Regions from separate parts of the Homo sapiens genome. Here regions 1, 3 and 4 are each linked to region 2. The links come from fine-mapping of genetic effects on gene expression. A gene starts in region 2. Each other region holds a variant in brackets. All regions are shown on one strand. Distances are between the middles of the regions.

What was found. PIP is the estimated chance that this variant, and not a neighbour inherited with it, causes the effect.
Region 1: its variant is the best candidate, but not a certain one, in a credible set for the expression of IKZF1 in whole blood (Lepik 2017, PIP 0.61).
Region 3: its variant is the best candidate, but not a certain one, in a credible set for the expression of IKZF1 in whole blood (INTERVAL, PIP 0.82).
Region 4: its variant is the best candidate, but not a certain one, in a credible set for the expression of IKZF1 in whole blood (TOPMed, PIP 0.51).

The regions. Positions count from the first base shown.
Region 1 is chr7:50,328,584-50,333,583 of GRCh38, reverse strand. The region is part of intron 3 of IKZF1 (IKAROS family zinc finger 1); the gene reads right to left. Among named protein-coding and RNA genes, the nearest start is that of IKZF1, 26 kb to the right of the region's middle. The variant G/A (reference allele first, on the strand shown) is at 2,926.
Region 2 is chr7:50,301,403-50,306,598 of GRCh38, reverse strand. It overlaps IKZF1 (IKAROS family zinc finger 1), which reads right to left and starts at 1,883. Exons shown (of 8, transcript NM_006060.6): 1 at 1,677-1,883. RefSeq lists a silencer at 1,771-2,570 and an enhancer at 3,425-3,926.
Region 3 is chr7:50,396,454-50,401,633 of GRCh38, reverse strand. It overlaps IKZF1 (IKAROS family zinc finger 1), which reads right to left. Exons shown (of 8, transcript NM_006060.6): 8 at 1-1,716. The coding sequence ends at 1,007. Among named protein-coding and RNA genes, the nearest start is that of FIGNL1, 51 kb to the left of the region's middle. The variant T/C (reference allele first, on the strand shown) is at 3,028.
Region 4 is chr7:50,218,920-50,224,120 of GRCh38, reverse strand. No RefSeq gene overlaps it. Among named protein-coding and RNA genes, the nearest start is that of IKZF1, 83 kb to the left of the region's middle. The variant C/T (reference allele first, on the strand shown) is at 2,903.

The sequences.
Region 1 (5,000 bases), 27 kb before region 2:
GATGCTGCTAGATAATATTTCTCCCCAGCTAAAATGGGGTTTATCGGTTCAGAAGAGATGCATTTCGCAGATAAAAACAACTTCCTCTAGCTGCTGATTAGATAAGCAGGCTCCGCATCCGTGCTCAAAAGCCTGCTGCCCAATCTCCAGAGCGGCTGCTTTCTTTCCATGGTGAAAGCTGTCCCCAGCACCGCTCCTTCCCTCCCAGAGTGTAGAGGACTGTTACCACCATTTGTCTACCCACCCCCCTCCCCCGACTACCGTGCTGGTCTTCTGCCTGAAACTGTAAAATGAAGGGGAGATTTGGCACCAGAATAGCCAATTTAAAATATGGTAATCCTCTTACAATTCCCACTGCAGTCTTAGAACTCATGGCTGAGTAAAGAAATTTTTACTTCAATTGAATGAATAAAAAAGATTTATGCTTTTACACACTCAATCATTTGTTCTGGAGTCCAGAGGGAAAATACCTAGATTTCTTTTCTACTTTTTTTTTTTTCAATTAGGCTAGGGTAAATCAAATTCTGTTCAAACTATTCAACATGAAGGACCTAAGTTGTGCTGATTCAGTTTCTATCTCTCAGTGCTGCCAGGGAGCCTAGAGCCTATGCCTCTGAACACCACACTGTGAGATGCAAGCTGAAATAAACCACTCATGAAACCATGGCGATCCCCTCCCAACTTCAGGAGTTGGCTGCTCCAGTGCACAGAGCCAGAGAAGCACATTCTGGAATGTACCAGGGCATATAGAAATATACCTTATCTCCCTATATTCAAACTCATGTGTCCTCCCGCCTGAATAACTACTGCCTGAGGTTGTCCCGATTATCAAGCCAGGTAGCAAGTCATTTAGTAAGCCCTGTCCCAGGCCCATATGGGCCTCAATCCTTTGGCCTTCCACGGATTCAACCAACCCATCTCCACTTACATCAATCATGGTCCCAGTTCAGTCCTACAGCATTCCTGTGCCTCTGCCCTGGGTTTTTTCTTCAATTCTACTCTAAGCCCTAAATTTGCTTGTCCTCTTTCTCAGGGGTGGCCATCCCGTTTTCTAGCCTGCAATCTTTCTTCTCTGTCCTCTGGTCTTTTGCTCCTCTGTTCCACCCACCCAAACGCCTCCCCTGCTGCCTGATTTCATGGGGGAGGAATGCCCTTACTCACACCTCCAGACCTGTGGGCTTGTCAATAGAATCCTAGTGGCTGAGGACTCTTGGTTAATTTAGGACACGGAAATGTGTACAAGAGAGAAGTCAGTAACTGGCAAAAATGTATGTATAAAGGAGGAGGAAAAAAATGCAAGGATTACTGAATACGGGAAGAAAATAACTAAGTTTTTACTTTTCTCACACAAAACACTTATCTGCTCTCCAGACCCCAACCCTGACATAATTCCTAAACAAAAAACTTTTAAGAGCCCCTGCTCAAGAGTTTTCAGAACAAGTCTCAATTCATTTTTTTACTTCTCTAGCATGTGTGCCATGGCTGACTGAGTAAATCTGGGGTTGCCTGAAGAGGTCACTGAGTGCATCCTCGGCTTTAAACAGTTTCATACACAACCACTTCAGAGAGGTGAGAGTTCTCTAGTTTTTAAAAAGACCACTTCAGAAGAACAAGCTACAGTCTCACTAAATAGACCATTCTGATGACTAAACTCTCCTTGCCAAAAGGAGAGTAAAGACCACATCTCTCCTTTAAGTCTAACTTAAATTCTTCAAGCAACACTTTAAATCCTTTGTTTCATTTTCTTCAGACCGGGAAGAAAATGGAGGCCAACTGAGGGCTGCAGGGCTGCTCTGCCCTCTGGCTCTGTCTCCTTCTCCCCAAACTTACACACAAACCTAGAATGTTCCTTCCACACTGAATGAAGCAATGAGGTGTGAAACCATTATTTGTTTATTCTGGGAGTGACTCACCAATCAGTATAACTTTGCACCCTCCTCATAGGGAACTGATTTCCACCATTCCCATCAATTTGTTTATTAATATGGTCTGTTATCCTTGTTGAGATTAGATTTGTCTAAAACTGAAGGATGCCAGTGGTCATAACAGCTCACAGCTTTCCAAAAGTGTTCCTTGTCACTTTCTAAAGCAGACACTCTTGCAATCTATTATTAGCAAATAATTTCCCACTTTTTTTTTTTTTTTGCATCTTTTAGCTTCTCACCATTTCTCCTTGAAATTTCAACAGTGGCAGCTCGACTTGAACTTGAGTCAGGTGGCGGCCAGCACCCTTACTCTGTCCTTTAGTCTTGCCCTATTCTAACAAATTCTTCCTTTCTCTTTTGGCTGTTTTCAGTTTGTTTATTCTTTGGACCATTTTTTTTAAAGTAAGAAATCCCTCTTCTATCCTTGGTGCTGGTCATCTGTTCTCTCCCTTTTCCCAAGTGAAGCTACGATAGCTTCATTTACCCTTCTTGTAAATCTTTGAAAGTTCTATTTTGCACAAGTTGCATTTCTTTTTTCTGTCCTTTTTACTTTGTGTCTTTGCTACTCTGTCTTCAACAAATTATGTCTATATATGTTCCATCTAACCCTCAAGGCCATTCTGTGATGCAGGTTCAGTTACTATTGCCACCTTCAAAAGAGGAAAGTGAGGCTCAGAGAAGAAAAGCCTTGCCAGAAGCTCCAGGCCAGGGAGGAGAGGGCCTGGACCTGTCCCTTCTGAGGTGTGCCTTACCCACAGGGCACTCTCCGCCCCTGCTGCTCACCCTGCATTTCAGCAACTCCATTTCCTCCTCTCGGCCCCACTGCTTCTGTCTTTTCATTTCCTGCTGTGCACTCCTTACAGTCCTTTGCACTGATGACTTATTCCCATGGAATAATGTGATGAAATATGGTACCCAGGTTATTCCCTTTATCCACGAATTCCCCTACCTTTTTATATTGTTTCCTAATGTTCTCTACATACTTCATTTATTTAATGCT[G/A]TACACTACAAATTAATGAACAGCCTGTCACCACATATGAAAGCTGGCTGGTTTCCTTCCAGAACCATGGAGGGTGGTCTCTAAACTCAGCTCTGTGAAGAGCCCTCTCTTCCCTCCATGTCTCCTTGGGCACTTCGGTCTTGTGGAATCCTCTCCCTCCTTCACTTCCTCTTCTCAAGCCTCTCCTTTGTGTCGTGCCTGGTTTGTCATGTAGGCTTTTGCATCTTTTTTGCTTTCTTTACAGTAACCTATCACTCCTGTGGCCTCTAGCCCCACTGAGGAGCATTCAATCTCCCAAATCATCTCAGTGCCCACGTCACATGGCTGTTCCCGCCTGTCCACAGGGCTGCATCAACTGCTATTTACAAGCAAAGCAAAGAGGTTTTCTAGGGTTTTTAAATTTCACAATTCTGAAATCATATTTTCTAAATTACATCCTGAAGGAAAAGTAGACTGAAAATCATGTCAAACATGATAAAGGGCAGGGCCAGGACCCATGGGCTATGACAAACCCGCCCCTGACTCCAAGGTGACACCTGTGCTGGGGGCAGCTGGGACCGAGGGCAGGACTTTGAACCAAAAGACAGCTCTGGGAACCCATCAGTAATGCCAACCAGATACTGGGTGATCTCCCACCCAGGAAAACCCACCAACAATATGACGTCCGTAAGGGACAGGATACTGACACTGTTTTGAAGGCACGTGTGCTATTCTTCACTCTCCAGGAATCGGCCTGACTTTCAGTTCTCTAAAGATGCCCTAGCCACGATGGCTCACAGCCTCTAAGGGCAGCTGCAGGGATTCCAGGGAGAGCCCATCTCTTTCTCCACAGCGACCCGAGCTGGCCTCCTCACTCTGACATCCAGGCTCTCTGTTCATTTACATGGTTAATGGATCATTTCTTCTGGTTCAGTCCCTGAGCCTCTGTGTTCTTGGGCAGGGTGTGAGCATCTGTTTGCTCCTGTGTTAAGCAGGAAGAACAGTACCCTTGGCGCTGGGTGCTTCAGGGACTAAAAAAATCAGGGAACATCACCACCCAATGACTATTCCTGTGCCACTTTTGCAAACTTTTATCATATCTATGTACTACTATTGACTTGATGTTTTTATTTAAACTGATTTTTTAATTTATATGAATGTGTTTTGAAAGGAACCCTCGTAGTGGTACAGTGCATGGTAAAACCAGTATCACTTGCAATACATAGAAGACAATCTCAAAAATAAATACATAAATTAAAATGAAACATGATCCTTTGCATCCCAACTTTGGAAAACCCTGAAATGATATATGTATCTTTCTTTGGTAGAATAGAGTAGATAATTCACAAGTTCATTTCTCTTCCCCTCTACTTTCCACATATAGTAGCCATTTTCCAATAGGGTAAAATAATTCATAAATGTACTTGTTTTCTGGATTCATCTACACCAAATGGCTTTAGCCACCATCTTTATCTGTTTGTGCCATTAACTGTGCTGCTGAGTTAAAAAAAAAAAGAACCATTATACCTAGTCCACTTGGTTTCTAAGACACATAAAAAACATACAAAATATGTTTTCTTTACTTTTTCTTTTTTTTTTTTTTTTTTGAGATGGAGTCTGGCTCTGTCATCCAGGCTGGAGTGCAGTGGCGCAATCTCGGCTCACTGCAAGCTCCGCCTGCCGGGTTCACGCCATTCTCCTGCCTCAGCCTCCCGAGTAGCTGGGACTACAGGCGCCCACCACTACGCCCGGCTAATTTTTTGTATTTTTAGTAGAGACAGGGTTTCACCGTGTTAGCCAGGATGGTCTCGATTTCCTGACCTTGTGATCCGCCAGCCTCGGCCTCCCAAAGTGCTGGGATTACAAGCTTGAGCCACCATGCCCGGCCCAAAATATGTTTTCTATACATGTAGATAAAATTCAGTTATCACATTTTCCCATTATTGCATTAGGATGTCCTATAGACATACAGTTGTGATTCTCATAAGCCTGAGAATTTTACATACATGTTCCCTCCTTGGCTATGGGGGCTTATGTAGCTGACCCACATTGATCCAGTCTACCTCATTTTACCTGTATGTCCTTCATATTCTTTT
Region 2 (5,196 bases):
TCAAACCTAACACATCCAGACTTTTATCTGCAGCCCTTGTGGTCTCCTGGAGACCCTGAGGGTGGGTGATTATTGCTATGATGTTTCTGCATTAGGGGGGTGTGTAGTTTTCCAAGAGGTACCACTCTAATTAGAACACTGATGAATTAAACAAGTACTGGAGAGTTTCTAAACTCCTTCCTTCAACTCTCACCGTGAAACAAAAGGGGAAGAAAACATGACCATTTAGTTCAATAAAATGTTCTGGTCACCAGCTCTGATTGACTGTGAGACTTAAGAGTCACGTTTTTTTTCATGTAAAAAATGTATGAAATATGTTCATGGTGAAATTGGAAATCAGATACATTCCATCAAGCAAGAATAGTGTAGTATTTTTAATGTGACATCATTATTTGTATGTGTACACATTATTTCTTTAACTTGTTCTGCATTTTACAAGATGCCAGCGTAAGAAGGTGAATCTTCTTGTCATGAATATTTGCCTCGTGTACATTTTAAGCCATAGCCCAAATGATCTGATTTGTCACGGAAATAATTCTGACACATTCTAATATAAATAATACTGAAATTGTTACTTTTTAAAATTCCATATAAAAGATGAGTACAATAAAACTCATTGAACAAACATCTTCAAACAAAGAAATAAACTCAAGAGGACCCAGGACATTTCTATGTGGGTCCCCCCCACCCCTCGACTCATAACCAAATTGAACCTGGCCTTAAAAGCATTTGAATGTCTATGAAAGTTTAAATATCATACGCAGTATTTTCAAATTCCATAAATTTTCCTCTTTTAACAGAAGTTGATGGGACTAGTAAGGAGACATTTCCTCAACACCATTTTGTCTGGAATTTTAAAACAAGGTATCTCAAAGCTGAAATATACTGCCTGCGGCGCAGTGGGAAATTGTGAGTGGGTAACCTAAGCAAAGCGCACCGCATTGAAATTCAGTCTGGGTGGGCTGCAGTCCCTAGAGAGAGGGAAGCTGCATTTGAAAGCTGTGCCTGGTCAGACCCTATGGAATCGCTACGGTTTTCGGTCATTAGATGCCTCCAAATTAGAAGGAAAAACAAGCCCTCACGAGGTTCCTTAGGCATCAGCAGCGATGCTTGACAAATATTTAAAATACATTTCAAATATAACCGCAAGTAACCTGATGCCTTAATATTACTAAGGGTTTTCCTGAGAAGGTTTGGTGACTTGAGCGTCAAACCTGCGGTCAGCAAAAGGACTAACTTTTCAAAGCCGGGATAATTCCTCTCTTGCAGAAATTAAGTTCAGACTCGATCTCATCATATTTATAGTATAAAAAGAAAGCTCCCGGCTCAAATATAAGGAAAACTCTTTACACACGACTTTATAAAGGCTGACTTCCGTGGGTATATGTAGGTCTACATAAATTTAAATATGGTTGGGAGCTAGAACTCCTCTCCTGGTGACAGCGGGGCTGCTCAGAAGTGTCCCATGTCGGCCTGGTCCTGCACCTGCTGGCACAGTGCAGAGCAACAGACGCTTGACAGAAGTGAACTCTCTCACTGTCCTCAGAAAAGAGAGGCGGACCTGAGCGACACCAGGGTCTACCAACCTTACCGCTTTTCTTTACTGTGTTTTTTTTTTTTTAAATTCACCAGTTACCCCAAGTTTTCCTATTGAAATTCAATTTGAAAACACTCACGTGGATTTGTGCGTCGCGCTTTGGGGCCAAGACTGATCCTCGGGTGCGAAGAGCAACCTCGGAGCCGGGGCTCCCTCTGCCCTGCCAGGCTTGCCCGCCTCGCCGCGGCCGAGCGTCCCGCCCAGGCTGGGATGCGCCGCGCGGGGACCCAGGGGGCTTGCCGCAGTCACCGCCCCGGGCGCGGGCCGCGCAGTCACTTGTTAGAGTGTCCTGCTAACTTGGCCGCGGAGCTCTTCCCAGCTTTCTTTCACAATGACTTCCTGAAGTTGCTCACTCGCATTGTTCCCCATTTCTCCGCCACACTCCCCGCCCCCAGCCGGCTCAGACCAGGCTTTCGCGCTCCCGGCCGACCGGCTGCCCCGCGCGCACAGCGCCGCCCGCGGGCCCCGTACCTGGCCCCCTCCGCGCCGGCCGCCCCCGCCGCGCCCTTGCGTTGCCACCAGCTGCCGCCCAGAGCGGCGGGTGGCCAGAGCGCGCGCCCTGCCACCCCGCAAACTTTGGGGTGACGCACGCTGGCGGTCCCTGCTCGACCTGCCCCGCAGCCGGCTCGGCCCCGCGCGCACCTCTCGGCCGCCTCCCGGATCGCTGCTCCGGTACAGGGAGCGGGGCGCGCAGAAGGGCGCAGAGCGGGACACGGAGAGGGTGCGTCGTCCCGTCCCCGCCCCGTCGCCGAGTCCCCCGGCTCGCGCGGCGCGCGTCTCAGCCGCAACTCCGGGCCAGAGGGGCCGCGCACGAAAACTTTGCAATCGCGCCGGGCTCCGGCTCAGCCCCCAAAGGCCGCCGGGGCGGCGGCGGGTGCGGGCCGTACCTGCTGGCGCCGCCGCCGGCTGCAGCCCGCTCGCCCGCGCCGGGCCCGCTCGGCGCGCCGCCGCCACCCCCGCGCGCACCGCGCCCGGGCCCTCCCCTCGCCGCCGCGCTTCCTCATTCCAGCGCAGCATCGCGCCGCGGCCCCGCACGGGATGCGGCGGCCGGCGCTGTGTCCGCGGGCCGGGCAGCCCGGCTCGGCCGCGGCGCTGCGGGACCCGCGCGTAACCCGTGGGGGCGCGGCGCGGGCGACACGTGCGGGCCGCCAGGAGGGGGAGGGGGACGCGCGCCGCCGGGCCCGCCACCCTGCACCCGGGGCCGCTGGTCGGTCGGGGCACCCTCACGCTCGCCCCGCTGGCGAGACTGGAGGGACTCGGGACATCGTAAAGCACTTTCCCCAGTGTCTGGGAGCGCCCGCTGTACGCTCAGCTTCACGTCCCTGGAACTGGGGCCCCTTGGCTCCCGGGTTCAGGCTCCGGCCCCAGGATGCGAGTGCCCACCCGAGGGGGTGGGAAAAGTTGATCCTCCGCAAGGGAGGGGAAGGTGCAATTCATTTTCCCAGACAACCAATGGAATACCTCTCGTCTCTCTTCCCTCCCACCTGCTCACGGCAGAAGTTAGGATGGCGCCTTCCATGTTGGCCTGGGTGCACACACAAGTGCGTGCGGAAGGGTGGCTGCAGGCGGAGGTGACAGCGAAGCAATCCCGCAGCCCGCTCGACGGCTCTTTGCGTCTCAGACCTCTCCCTGGCGTGTAAGACACCGTGTGTCTCCGTAAAACGGGAATGCCACATCTGACAGCGCACCCCTTCGCCCTACGGGGAGCCCCTCACTCTAATTAGCCGGGCTCCACCCGAGCAGGAGCCAGCAATGTGTTCAGCTTGAGCAGGAGAGAAAAAGTCATGAATTCCACAAATGCAGCCTGGGCTCCCGCCAGGCGCTAGGGGAGGGGACCCAGAGGAGTGAGATGCGCCTCCTGCCCTTCCAGACTTGTAGGAGCCACCAGGAAGGCACAGAATAAAAATCCCGGGCACCCCTGTGAGGAGGAGCGCCCTGTGAAGAGGGCCGAGAACGTGCTCCTGCTTGGGCGCGGTGGTTCGGGAAGGCGTGAAGACCCATAGGGAGAGCGATGAAAGACCAAGGGAGCCTCCTCAGGGTAGGACATGCAGGCGAAGAAGGCACAGGCCTTCCGGGTGGAGGACACAGCCGGGCAAGGGAATAAGCAGGAAATGTCCCTTCAGGGCAGTTGAGTGTGGCTGGAGACCATCGCTGCCGGGGAAGGTCTTGGCCTGGCCCAGGAGGCCTCCAAGTCGGGGGCCAGGGCACACCAGAGACAGGATCTGCCTCTGCTGCCTCTGGGAGAAGGCCCTTTACCCGTGAATCACAAACAGCGTCTATCCACATTCTCCCTGAGCGCATATGCAGCTCTTACTACAGTACTCAGTGTGTCCTGAAGGGCATTCCGCTGGGCAAGTCTGAGCCAGTTAACTCACTGCTACAGCCCAGAGAAGGGGAAGGTAGTGAAAGGTCCATTGATTTACCTTCTAGTCCTCTCCTCCACTGCGTGACCTTGGGCAGGTTATCCAAACTCCTGAGCATCATCTTCCTTGTCTATAAAAAGAATACATGCCACCAATCCTAAAGACTCCTTACCTGGATTAAATGAGGCAATAAACATAAGGTACAAGGCCCAGAGGGAGGCCAACAATGTTGTAAAGGGGACACGGGACACCTCTAGTTCTTGGATGCAGAAGTACCTTTAGCCGCTGGTACGTCTCTCTAAACCTGTGCCTTGGTCTTCAGGAGTGGACCAGTGGACCGAAACATAGGCATCTCACCAAGGTGTAGCCCACTGAGGCAGGAGCATGTGGGGCTAAGAGCCCAGATAGTTTGGGCTTATGAATCTGACTGAGGTCCTTAATCTCTCAAAGCCTGAATTTCCCCATCTGTAAATTGGTGGTGATAATATAACCCTCCTGGTGGGGTTGTTTGTGGGTTAAGGAGATCACATATGGAAGACCTTGCCACATGCCTGACAGAGAGGAGTACTTTCCAAGTAAGAACAGTTATTCCCTGCTAGCCCAACCAATGTCCCAATGAGATGAGGAGTGCACTGTGAAGAGTCAGGCTCCTTGGCTGGGTGCAGTGACTCACACCTGAGTTTGGAGCCCAAGGTGGGAAGATCACTTCAAGCCAAGAGTTCCAGACCAGCCTGGGCAACAAAGCAAGACCCTGTTTGTACAAAAAAATTTTAAACTTTAAAAATCAAACCCCATTTGTATTAAAAATTTAAAAATTAGGTGTTATGGTATGCACCTGCAGTCCCAACAACCTACTTAGGAGGCTGAGGCAGGAGGATCCCTTGAGCCCAGAAGTTTGAGGCTGCAGTGAGCCATGATTGACACCACTGCACTCCAGCTTGGGCGACACAGCAAGACCCTGTCACAAAACAAAACAAAACAGCAGTCAGGCTGCAGGTACCATGCCTTACCCTTGCCCCCAACCGGGTGGAGTTGAAGGAAGTCAAGCTTATATTATTATAACCTGGGGTCTGTGGATAGACTCAGAGGGACCAGAGAGGTGATATAAATCAAATGTTCAAACCCTTAGGGACAACAGTAAAATGCACAATGGATGGGAAAACATATAGGGAGAAATTGGAACATGTAAAACTGTTTTTTTTCATATTATGTCTAAAGTCATTTTATTTTATTTAC
Region 3 (5,180 bases), 95 kb before region 2:
TTTCTTCAGGAAAAGAGGCCTCTGGTACTAGATGGAACCAGCCAGGGAAGGAAGAGATTTGAAATAAAGCTTTGGTTTCTGAGGAATGTTGCCGTTTGAGAGATTCAAAAAGAAAGAAGATCCAAATTTCGGGACTGGTGTTTAAATTGTAGTGACAGATTTTGGGGGCCATTAAAGGTATGGGAGTGAAAAAGCGGGGAACAGGGCTCCCCAGATATGCCCACGGGAAGACAGTCTCCTCCTACGGGGCAGCAAGCCTCGGGAGGCTCAGGCCATCTGAGCAGCCTCCGCAAAGCCAGTGAATCCAGGACGATCCCAAAGGCTCTAGCCCGGCGTCTCCCTCCACCCAGGGCAGTCTGACAGACACGACTTTCCCCAACCAATTCATTTTCCTACGCAGAATATGACTTGAAATAGTATTTTCTCTCACAAGTGCAGCCTCTCCGCCCTAGATGCATGTAGCTCGAAGCTGGCCTGGGCACAGGTTGTTGGCCCTGCTGTGTCTTGGCACTTGGGTGGCGGCACACCTGTCCTGTCTGCTCACCTGCAGACCCACACAGCAGGGGCTGTGCTCTCTGCTTCTGGGGACTGGAAAAAGACACCTGGTGCGCGAACCCCGTGCTTAGCACAGGGTAGAGCACGCTCCTTCCCAGGCTGTGGCGTGTTTTATCTATTTCTCTCTGAAAATTTAGACTAATCGTTTGGAGAAGGGGATTCTAGGAAGCGACAGGTGAGGGAATCTCAGCCAGCGGTCTGGGGAAACATCTAGGAAGGTAGCAGTTCTGGATGCTCCCAATGCAGCCCTGCCTCTAAAAATAAAAATCTTTTCAAAAGCAAATCAAACCCCAATCAACCAACTCAAACAAAAAACAAAAAACAGTTACAAATCCAAACACAACATTGTCTGGTCCAGTCCAGTCTATGCTGCTGGCGGGAGCGAGAAGGCGGCAGTCCTTGTGCTTTTCCTGGGGTGGCTCGGGGTCTGGGGTGGGGGCGCGGGAGGGCTTTAGCTCATGTGGAAGCGGTGCTCCCCTCGCGTTATGTGCGACGAGAACTCGTACCGGTCCTGGCTGTGGTAGCCGCACATGTTGCACTCAAAAGGATCACGGAAGCCGTGGCAGCCCATGTGGATGGTGTACATGACGTGATCCAGGAAGAGCACCCGGCAGTGTTCGCACTTGTACACCTTCATCTGCTCCCCGCTGGTGCTGACCACGCGGAGCGCGTCCTGCGAGTTCTCGGAGGCGGCGCGCAGCAGGTCGTAGGCGCGGTGCTCCTCCTTGAGCGACAGCCCGTTGCGCGCGTGCGGGGCGATGTGGTTGGTCAGGTAGATGAGACCGCTGCGCTGCTCCTCGTTGTTGCTCTCGGTGTCCGTGGAGTCTTGGCAGCTGTTGCTCGGGGACGCCTCGCGCTCCGAGGGCACCAACTTGGCCTTGGAGAGCAGCAGCAGGTTCTCCACGGCGCTGTCCTGGGCCGAGTGGTTGGAGCGCGGGGTGCCCTCCGCGAGCGGCTTGTGCAGCTGGTACATCGGGCTGATGACCGGGACCACCTCGGAACCGCCCGGGGGCGTCTGCACCAGCGGGCGCAGGGACTCGGCCCCCAGGTAGTTGATGGCGTTGTTGATGGCTTGGTCCATCACGTGGGACTTCATCATTTCGTTCTCCTTCTCGTAGCTGGCGCTGCTGTCGTAGGGCGTGTCGGACAGGCCCTTGTCCCCTGTGGAAAGCAGGCGACAGTGAGTGGGGCGCGGCCACCTCCGGAACCGGTCAGGTCTGGCAGCAACAGCTGAAATCTACAACCGGGGAGGGGAAGGGGAACACGGCCTGGGGGCCCAGCACGCCTGCGGACCCCACACCTGCACACATACACACACACCTGCGGACACATCACACCTGCACCATACTGACGGGCTGGGGGAAGGCCCATGCGTCTGTCTAGGGGACACCGAGCCAGGACCTACCCATTATAAGCACTTAAGGAGATTTTGTTGGATAAATGAATACATAAATAGGGGAACCAAAGATTAGTTTAATTATGTTATTGTATTTCATTTAATATTTTAAATAGTGTATTTGAAATGATGCTTTTTCAGTAGAGTGTTCTCAGTAATTTACAACTGGCTAACTTACTATACATTTATTGAATTAAAATAGACAATAATTATATTATTATTCATTATATACAATATATTTAAAATATGTGATATGTTAAATTATTAATTTTAATAATTGTATTTAATAATTTTAATAATCTAGTGTAAAATTTAATCAAAATACATGATGATTGTATATTTTTTGTAATAAAATGACACATTTTTGACAAATAACCCAAAGGTAGATGAACTCTGTCTTGAGATGAGAGTGGAAGGGATACTCAAAAGTAATTCTCTGTAGTTGGCAGGCCCGAAGCAGGGCTCCCCAGAAACATGTGGTGGAGGGTAGGAGGCACAGCAAGGGAGCTACAGGGAAAATAGTTGCTATTCATCTGTTATTTTTTAAAAGTAATGAGAATTATTGATGTACAAGGAACTACTGTTGACGCCTCAGCAGTGATTGGGCCCTGGCCTTGAGAAACTTCTGATCTAACATCATCAGTTCATAGGAGTCCATGAGCTCATTTCCCTGGCAATGGTGAAACCAGAGCCTAGATTTGGCTTCTTCAATTAGCTTTGGAGTAAATATCTTAATACAAAAAATAAATTTTCTTGAAGACACACCTTCTCAATATGTTGGTCATAAGTTCAGTATGAAATCATGGCTTAATTAGCAAATTCATTAATTACAGTAACTGCACTCTTACTGGCAAGACTGCGGCTGTGTTCTGTTTTCAGCAGTGGTACATTAATGAGTCAAAGCACATGAGCCCATCCTTGGAATGTCTGAACGGTTTATATTTTACCACTACTCTGTATATTTCCATCCTTCAACACATCTGGACTGGGCAGAGGGACAGAACAGTGAGTAAGTGAGAATGGTCCCCATCCTTAGCAGCAGACAGCTACTAGGGGAGGGTAGGTAGAAGTTTATG[T/C]GTGATTGCATGGATAATTCCTTCCCATCTGAGAAATCCACGAAGACAAGGGGAGCGTGCCATGAGAGCATTACACAGGTTTCTGATCTTGTAAGAGTCAGCCAGATAAGGAGGGTTGATAAGGAGGGTTTTGTGTCCCAGTGTTGGGGACAACAAGAAGGAAAGTTCTGAAGGGAGAAGGGGCTGGGAGGTGTGGCAGGACCGAGTGAAGGTTGGGGAACCAGAGCCCTAGGTGGGGGCAGTGCTCGAGAGGTAGGCAGGAGGGGCAGGCAGAGGCCAGCTAGGCAGAGACTTTGTCTAAAGGAAAATGGAAACCACTGAAAGGTTTGAAGGAAGAAGTGGCCTTCTCATTCACTGTGGAAAGAACAGCTTGAAGAGGGGCAAAAGTGAGGGATAAGTCAAAACTTCCCCAATGTGCAGGTTATGGCTGATGATGGCTGGTGAGGGTGGTGGCAAGGGAAGGTCCCAACACCTTCCACGATGCACCTGACACTGAGGTCATCAGCTGGTTCTTACTAACAGAAGGATAAATTACTCTGTAATTCATACATTTACTAATAGTCCTTTTATAAAATCTGTGACCATTAAGAATTGTCCAGGAATATATGCCCCATTATACCATAAAGTACCTTTGAGTTTCATGTCTTATTTTGTAATGGATATGTATCATATAATAGCCTGGTTTCCATTCGTTTTCATCTACTGGTGGTCAGAAGTGGCACATACTCTGATTAGAGAAAAAAAACTTGTGCATGGCCAGTTACGCCCTCCCAGAAACAGAACAGGATGAAAACCCTATGAAGCTGATGGTAGGGACCAAAGAAGTGGTGTTTCTCTCCATTAAAGGTCAGAAAAAGTAATTGTATAGCACTGCTGAAACCACACAATTTTTTTGTTTCTGTTTTTGTGTTGAGCAGCTAAATGTCTTGTTACACTAACTCCAGAGAAGAATGAATCCATTCTAGTTTGTATCCAAGTCTATCCCTCTACCAAATCAAGGCAAGAAAAGGAGGGGAATGGACTTTGTAGCCAATTTTGCTAAATATAAAAGTCTTTACAGCCCCACCAAAAGGGTGCTTTCCCACCTAATCATCCTGTCTCTCCCCAAGTCATGGTTCTGTGGTTTCCCAAGCAACCACTGAAATCTGTTGTTTTCAAACTTGGTATCACAACAAATGGGTGTAGGAAAAAAATCAACATATATGCCAGATTACTGTGCCACATGAAAATTACCATAGAATTTCTCTTCCTTAATACCCAACAAAACAAGAAAAATAAAAACCTATAAATTTCTCTTAACAGCAATCAGCTAAAGGAACATGTCATGTATAGTCATAGAATATTATATATACACATAATTATATATAATATGCATTTCATTATGGCGTGTGTGAGAACACACATACACTCAAAGACTAGAAAGAAACAGAAAATTCTGACATGAGATGTAGGGCAAAGCTTTGCTGCTAATCTCATTTCCAAATCTTTAGGTGTGAGTCAAGAATAACCTCAGAATTTTCCCTCATAGCCTCATATCTATAAAGACATGATTCAGATAGGTATCTTTTCCCTGTTCTGATCAGAAAAGCATTTGAAACCTTGGCTGACAAGAATCAGATGAACATGGAGAAGTGAGCCCCTGCGGGCTCCCTGGGACAGAAGCAAAGTCCTCTGTGGTCTACACTGAAGGGGAAGATGGCCCAAAGCCCCAGAGAATCTCCTGTGGGGATGAAAGCATTCCCCAACTAGGTACAGTGCTGATGGCTTAGGGTATTTAACTAAATTTCAGATGAGGGAGAGAGAGCAAAGGAAAAGTATTTTAACAAAGGCTGCACTTTGCCTCACCAAACTCCTCCAACCCCATCTTTGGCATTCTTTCAGGATTTAGAAAACCCAATAGCTCTCACAGGAAAAAAAAATATAGTGGGAAGAAGGCTGAAATGTCAATCAAGCTATATCAGACCAACTAGAATAAGCAAGATGAAAAGAAATGTCAGGGTTACTAGGAAAATATTTTCTAGAAATACAGGGGAAGAAAGGAAGTAAAACACAGACCATAGAGTCCCTCCTAGGGGAAAAAATCGTTAATTCCAACAAGAGAGGAAATGCCTCATAATTGCTTCATAACATGGAATCAATTTTAAAAGTATTCA
Region 4 (5,201 bases), 82 kb after region 2:
TTAAAAGCTTTTTATATATTCTGGGTGTTAGACCCATGTCAGGTGTATGATTTGGAAATATCTTCTTCCATTCTCTGAGTTGTTTTCTCACTCTCTTGATTATGTCTTTTGATGGACAAAGTTTTTTATTTTGACTAACTCCAATGTATCGATTTATTTATGTCACCTGTGCTTTTGGTGTCATGTCTAAGAAACCTTTGCCAAATCCAAGGCCCTGAAGAGCCACTCACATGTTTTCTTCTAAGAGTTTTATTGTTTTAATTCTTACATTTAGGTTGTTGATCCATTTTGAGTTAATATTTGTATATTTTATGAGGTAAGTGTCCAATTTTATTCTTTTATGTATGAATATCCAGTTGTCCCAGCACCATTTATTGAAGAGACTCTTCTTTACCAAATGAATAATGTTGGCACTGCATTGTACAACCAATTGACTATGAATGGTTTTATTTCTGGGATCTCAGTTCTAGTTCATTGATTTATTTGACTATCCTTATGCCAGTATCGCATGCCGGTATCACAGCTTTGAAAATGAAAATTTGGGCTGGGCACGGTGGCTCAGGCCTGTAATCCCAGCACTTGGGGAGGCTGAGGTGGGTGGATTACCTGAGGTCAAGAGTTCGAGACCAGCCTGGCCATCATAGTGAAACCCCATCTCTACTAAAAAATACAAAAAATTAGCTGGGTGTGGTGGCAGGCACCTGTAATCCCAGCTACTTGGGAAGCTGAGGCAGGAGAATAGCTTGAACCTGGGAGGCAGAGGTTGCAGTGAGCTGAGATTGCACCATTGCACTCCAGCCTGGGCAACAAGAGTGAAACTCTGTCTAAAAAAAAAAAAAGAAAAAAAAGAACAACAACAAAAAAAGAAAATGAAAAGTGTGAGCATTTCAACTCTGTTCTTTCTCTTCAGGTTGGTTGGCTATTCAAGGTCCCTTGTAATTTCATGTGGGTTTCAGGATTGACTGTTCATTTTCTACAAAAAAGATTGATGAAATTTTGATAGGGATTGAGTCTATAGATCATCTTGGGGAGTATTTTCATTTTAATGGTATTAAATCTCTCAATCCATGAACATAGTATGTCTTCCTATTTATTGATGTCTCTTTTTTTAAATTAAGGTTTTGTGATTTTTCAGCATGGAAATATTGGTTCTTCTTTGTTAACTTTATTTCTATGTATTTTATTCTTTTGAATGGTATTGTAAATGAAATTTTTAAAACAACGTTCAAATTGTTTATTGCTCATGTATAGATTTGCAACTGATTTTTGCATATTGGTGTCATATCCTACAACCTTGCTGAACACATTTATTAATTCTATTTTTTTAGTGTGCTCTGTAGCATATTCTATATATAAGATCATGTCATCTGGAAATAAATATAGTTCTACTTCTTCTTTTCCAGTCGAAAAGCCTTTTATTTCCTTTGCCTGACTAATTTCTCTGGCTGGAACTTCCAGTACAATGTGGAATAGAAGCAGTGAGAATGAATATCTTTGTCTTATTCCTGATCTTAGGGGAAAACAATAAGTCATTTTCTATTAAATTAGCTGTGGATGTTTCATAGATGTCTTTTATTAGGCTCAGGAAATTTCCATTTTTTTCATAGCTTTTTGAGTGTTTTTATCATGAAGGGGGTTAGATTTTTGTCAAATGTCTTTTCTGCATTAATTTAGAGGATCATATGGTTTTATCATTTATTCTGTTGATATGTTATTTTACATTAATTAATTTTCAGATATTAAACCAACCTTGAATTCCTGGAATAAGTTCCACTTGGTATGCATACACATGGTATACAGTTTGTGTTATATGTTACTGGATTTGGCTTGCTAGTATTTTGTTGAAGGTTTTTATATCTATATTAATATGATATATTGATTTGTTTTCTTGTGATATCTTTGGTATCAATAGGAAGTTAAGAATTTATAAGCGGCAAGGAGTAGGGGCAGATTGGAAGTATTCCAAGTCTCCTAACTAACTAGGGAAAATGTTTCAAGTCACACAACAGTGCAAAAAGAGCAAGAAAGAGTATACTATGTTTTCTGTTTATCTTTGACACTTACATTTAGGGCTTCCTTAATCTATTTTATCCCATTTGTGAGCTTACTTATTGAATTGGCTAAAGAGACAGGAACAAAGCTTTATAGCCATGAGAGAACTGCTGTAATCTTGGTATCATGGATGGAATGTGCCTTTGAATAGACTTGATTTCTCTTACCTCTTTGTTTCTCTATATTTAAGGGATGAGCTATGAAAAGCCTATTAAAAATAACATGAGCCAGTCTCATTATGCTTGGCTGAACTTAGATTCCAGTAAATGTTTGTGGATTCCTTTTCTAATCACTACATTAACTGGAATTAATAACTGAGAAACAAAATACTACTACTCCCAATTTTTTTTAAGTTGTGAGTGTATGGCATTATTCATTTCATCTCCTCCCAGCAACTTGTGTTTATGCACACACACACACACACACACTCCCCTGCCCCATGCAGGTATGAATATGTGTGTATATGCATCTCTGTGCTTATATGATTAAACATGACTCTACTTTTGAACATTCAGTGAAAATTAAGAAATAATTCATACAGATGATATAGGATGGCTTAAGCCTAAAGCTATCATTCTGGGTTAAAAGTAAAATAGTACATGCAAATGAATTTCCTATCATAAGTTTCTTATTTCCAATTTTCACAGCAGCTCTGACATAGGTTTGAGGGCTGACATTTCATCCTTGGCTGTGCAAAGTTCCCAGATCATGACGGTTTGTTGCTGGGAGTCCAGAGCAGAACTGGAGGAAAGGTGCTTCCACTGCTTCTTCCCAGAGAGGGAGGGGCTGGGAGCTCCTTGCCACAGGCTGACCTCTGTCCCCTCCCTTGTTGAGCTGGTGGTTGCCCAGT[C/T]CCTGCAAGTGTTACCTCATTTCCTCTATTTGGAGGTCCTCCTCTACCTCTTCCCTAATTCATCTCCATGACGTGTCTCAAACTTTTTTGCATGAAGTTGTCACTAATTCACTTCACTCACTCGGATCACTCCTTTGGGCTCCTCTATCTTGAGATAGGTCAGATGCCATTTACAGAAGAAACTCCATCTCCAGCCACGTAATGAAGTAAAGAGATAGTCATAGGTGGTGCTTAGTCTCCCCACTGGGGTAAGAAAATGGAGGCTGGAGGAACCCACAGGGCAAGGATGCTGTCAGGGCAGGGGAGGCTGGGCACAAGTGTCCAAGAGCACAACAATCTCAATCTTGTTCAGGGAAAGTTGTCAGCTGTGGGAGTGGAAGTGGGGTAGGCAGGTGGTGATGGGATCCCAGTGGTAGATGGAGTGTAGACCCTGAGCATATTGGCTAAATGATGCCAAGCAGTATGGAACCACTTAAAAAAATGGTTCTTGGAGCCTTGCCACCTGGTAGGGTGTTCAGAAGCTGGACTTCAATATTGAAAGCAAGGCATTTGGAGGACTAAATGGAGACAGAAAAGGGCACTTAAAGTCCTTTCCATAGACTAGGGCATGCACAGGACAGGGAGAGTTGGTAATTGAGGCACAGAACAGGAGCTCCCTGGTTAGCCACGTAATAAGAGTGATGATATTAGGTTCTGCCTGTTGAATAGAGAGAAGGGGATGGTTGCAAAAGTTTAAGTAATTGCAACCTCAGTCAAAACAGATTCAGGAACTAACTGTGGGAGAGGCAGTGAGCATGTGGGTATGGGTGATCCCTTAACTGAATTGTAAGAAAGTAGTGGGAGAGATCCAGGGTGAGGAGGTTACAGTGCCATGCCAGGAAAGGAGACCTGCTGATTGGGCCACTCGGTAGTTAGGTGAGTAAGCCAGGTCAAGGGCTTACAATTTTTCAGAATAGAGAGGATCAATTTTGTAAGGGCATCTTGAAGTGATCACATTCTCAGAAACAAGCCCATGGTAGTCAAACTCACATGATGCCAAATTATAATCCAAAAATAATCCTTTTGTGAATTTACCATAAGAATCATTTCTTTCTATTGATATTGACATATGTGACCCAGGGTACCACTTCCAAATCAGTAACTATTAGGATATGATTGGAGCACAGGATGGTGAAAACTCCCAGAACACTTCTAGGTACTATTCAGGTCTCTTTAATGCCAGTGTGGGCCCAGTCCCAAATTTGACAAGCATCACTCATGGCTTTCTTCTCCTCCCTTTTCTAATTCAGATTCTTTCTACCACCACCCTCTCCTCAGGTCTGTCTCTATCATTGATGGCACTACTCTTTCTTCATTTGATTTATGTGTGGTCTTATTCTCTCTTGCTTTGATTTAGGAGATACTGCTTTTCTAAAGACCACCACAGAATGCCACTTTCTGCATTGCTTGAAAATTCTGGTAACTGAACTTAGAAGCTCATCTTAGGTGTAAGAACAAACTCTTTTAACTTCTCTCTGTGGGCCAAACAGGCAAAATGAGACAGCCTGTGTCCTTCCAACATTTTAGATCCTTAGTCATTCTGATGAATGAGTGGATGGAGAGATGGACGAAGAGCTCACAAACTCAGAAACAACCAGAGGTGTAACATCTACTAGTCTTTTTGTCTTTCATGAAATCTCACCTTCTCATTATTTTCCTTATCTGTTTGATTATCACAATTGAGCACTTATTCCTAAGCACTATTGCTTATTATGCCTCTTAGGGTTTCTACTCCAGAGACACACAGCCTCTTCCTGACCTGGGAATGTACCACCACTTGGTGCTGAATTGTGACCCCAAAGTGCTCAAGGACCCTCCCCAGGAAGGCAGAACACATGCTTAAACCTGGGACTCTTGAGAAAATGCACATTCTGATTCTGTACATCTGAAGTGGGGCACGAGGATCTGATTTCTACCAAGTTTCCAGGTGGCACAGGTGCCACTTGTTCCTGGACCTTGAGTAACAAGGCCCAAGTGGTAAAATCAAGGGCTTGGAGCTTAACTCTCCTGAGTTGGAATCCCATTTTCCTCCATTATCAGCTTCATGACCTTAGACAAATTCTTCAACTTCTCTGAGCCTCAGTTTTGTTTCTGAGCATGGGGTTGCCACTTGGTTGCCAGGTTCTTGTGAGGATGGAGGTCACGTATGTTCAGTGCCTCTGCCAGTGTGTGCCACCTACAGCCCTCACAAGGCCCTTCCCTTCAAGCCCCATCTGAGTCCCTCCTCCACCCAACGTCTGGCTTCTCTATCTGGAGGATC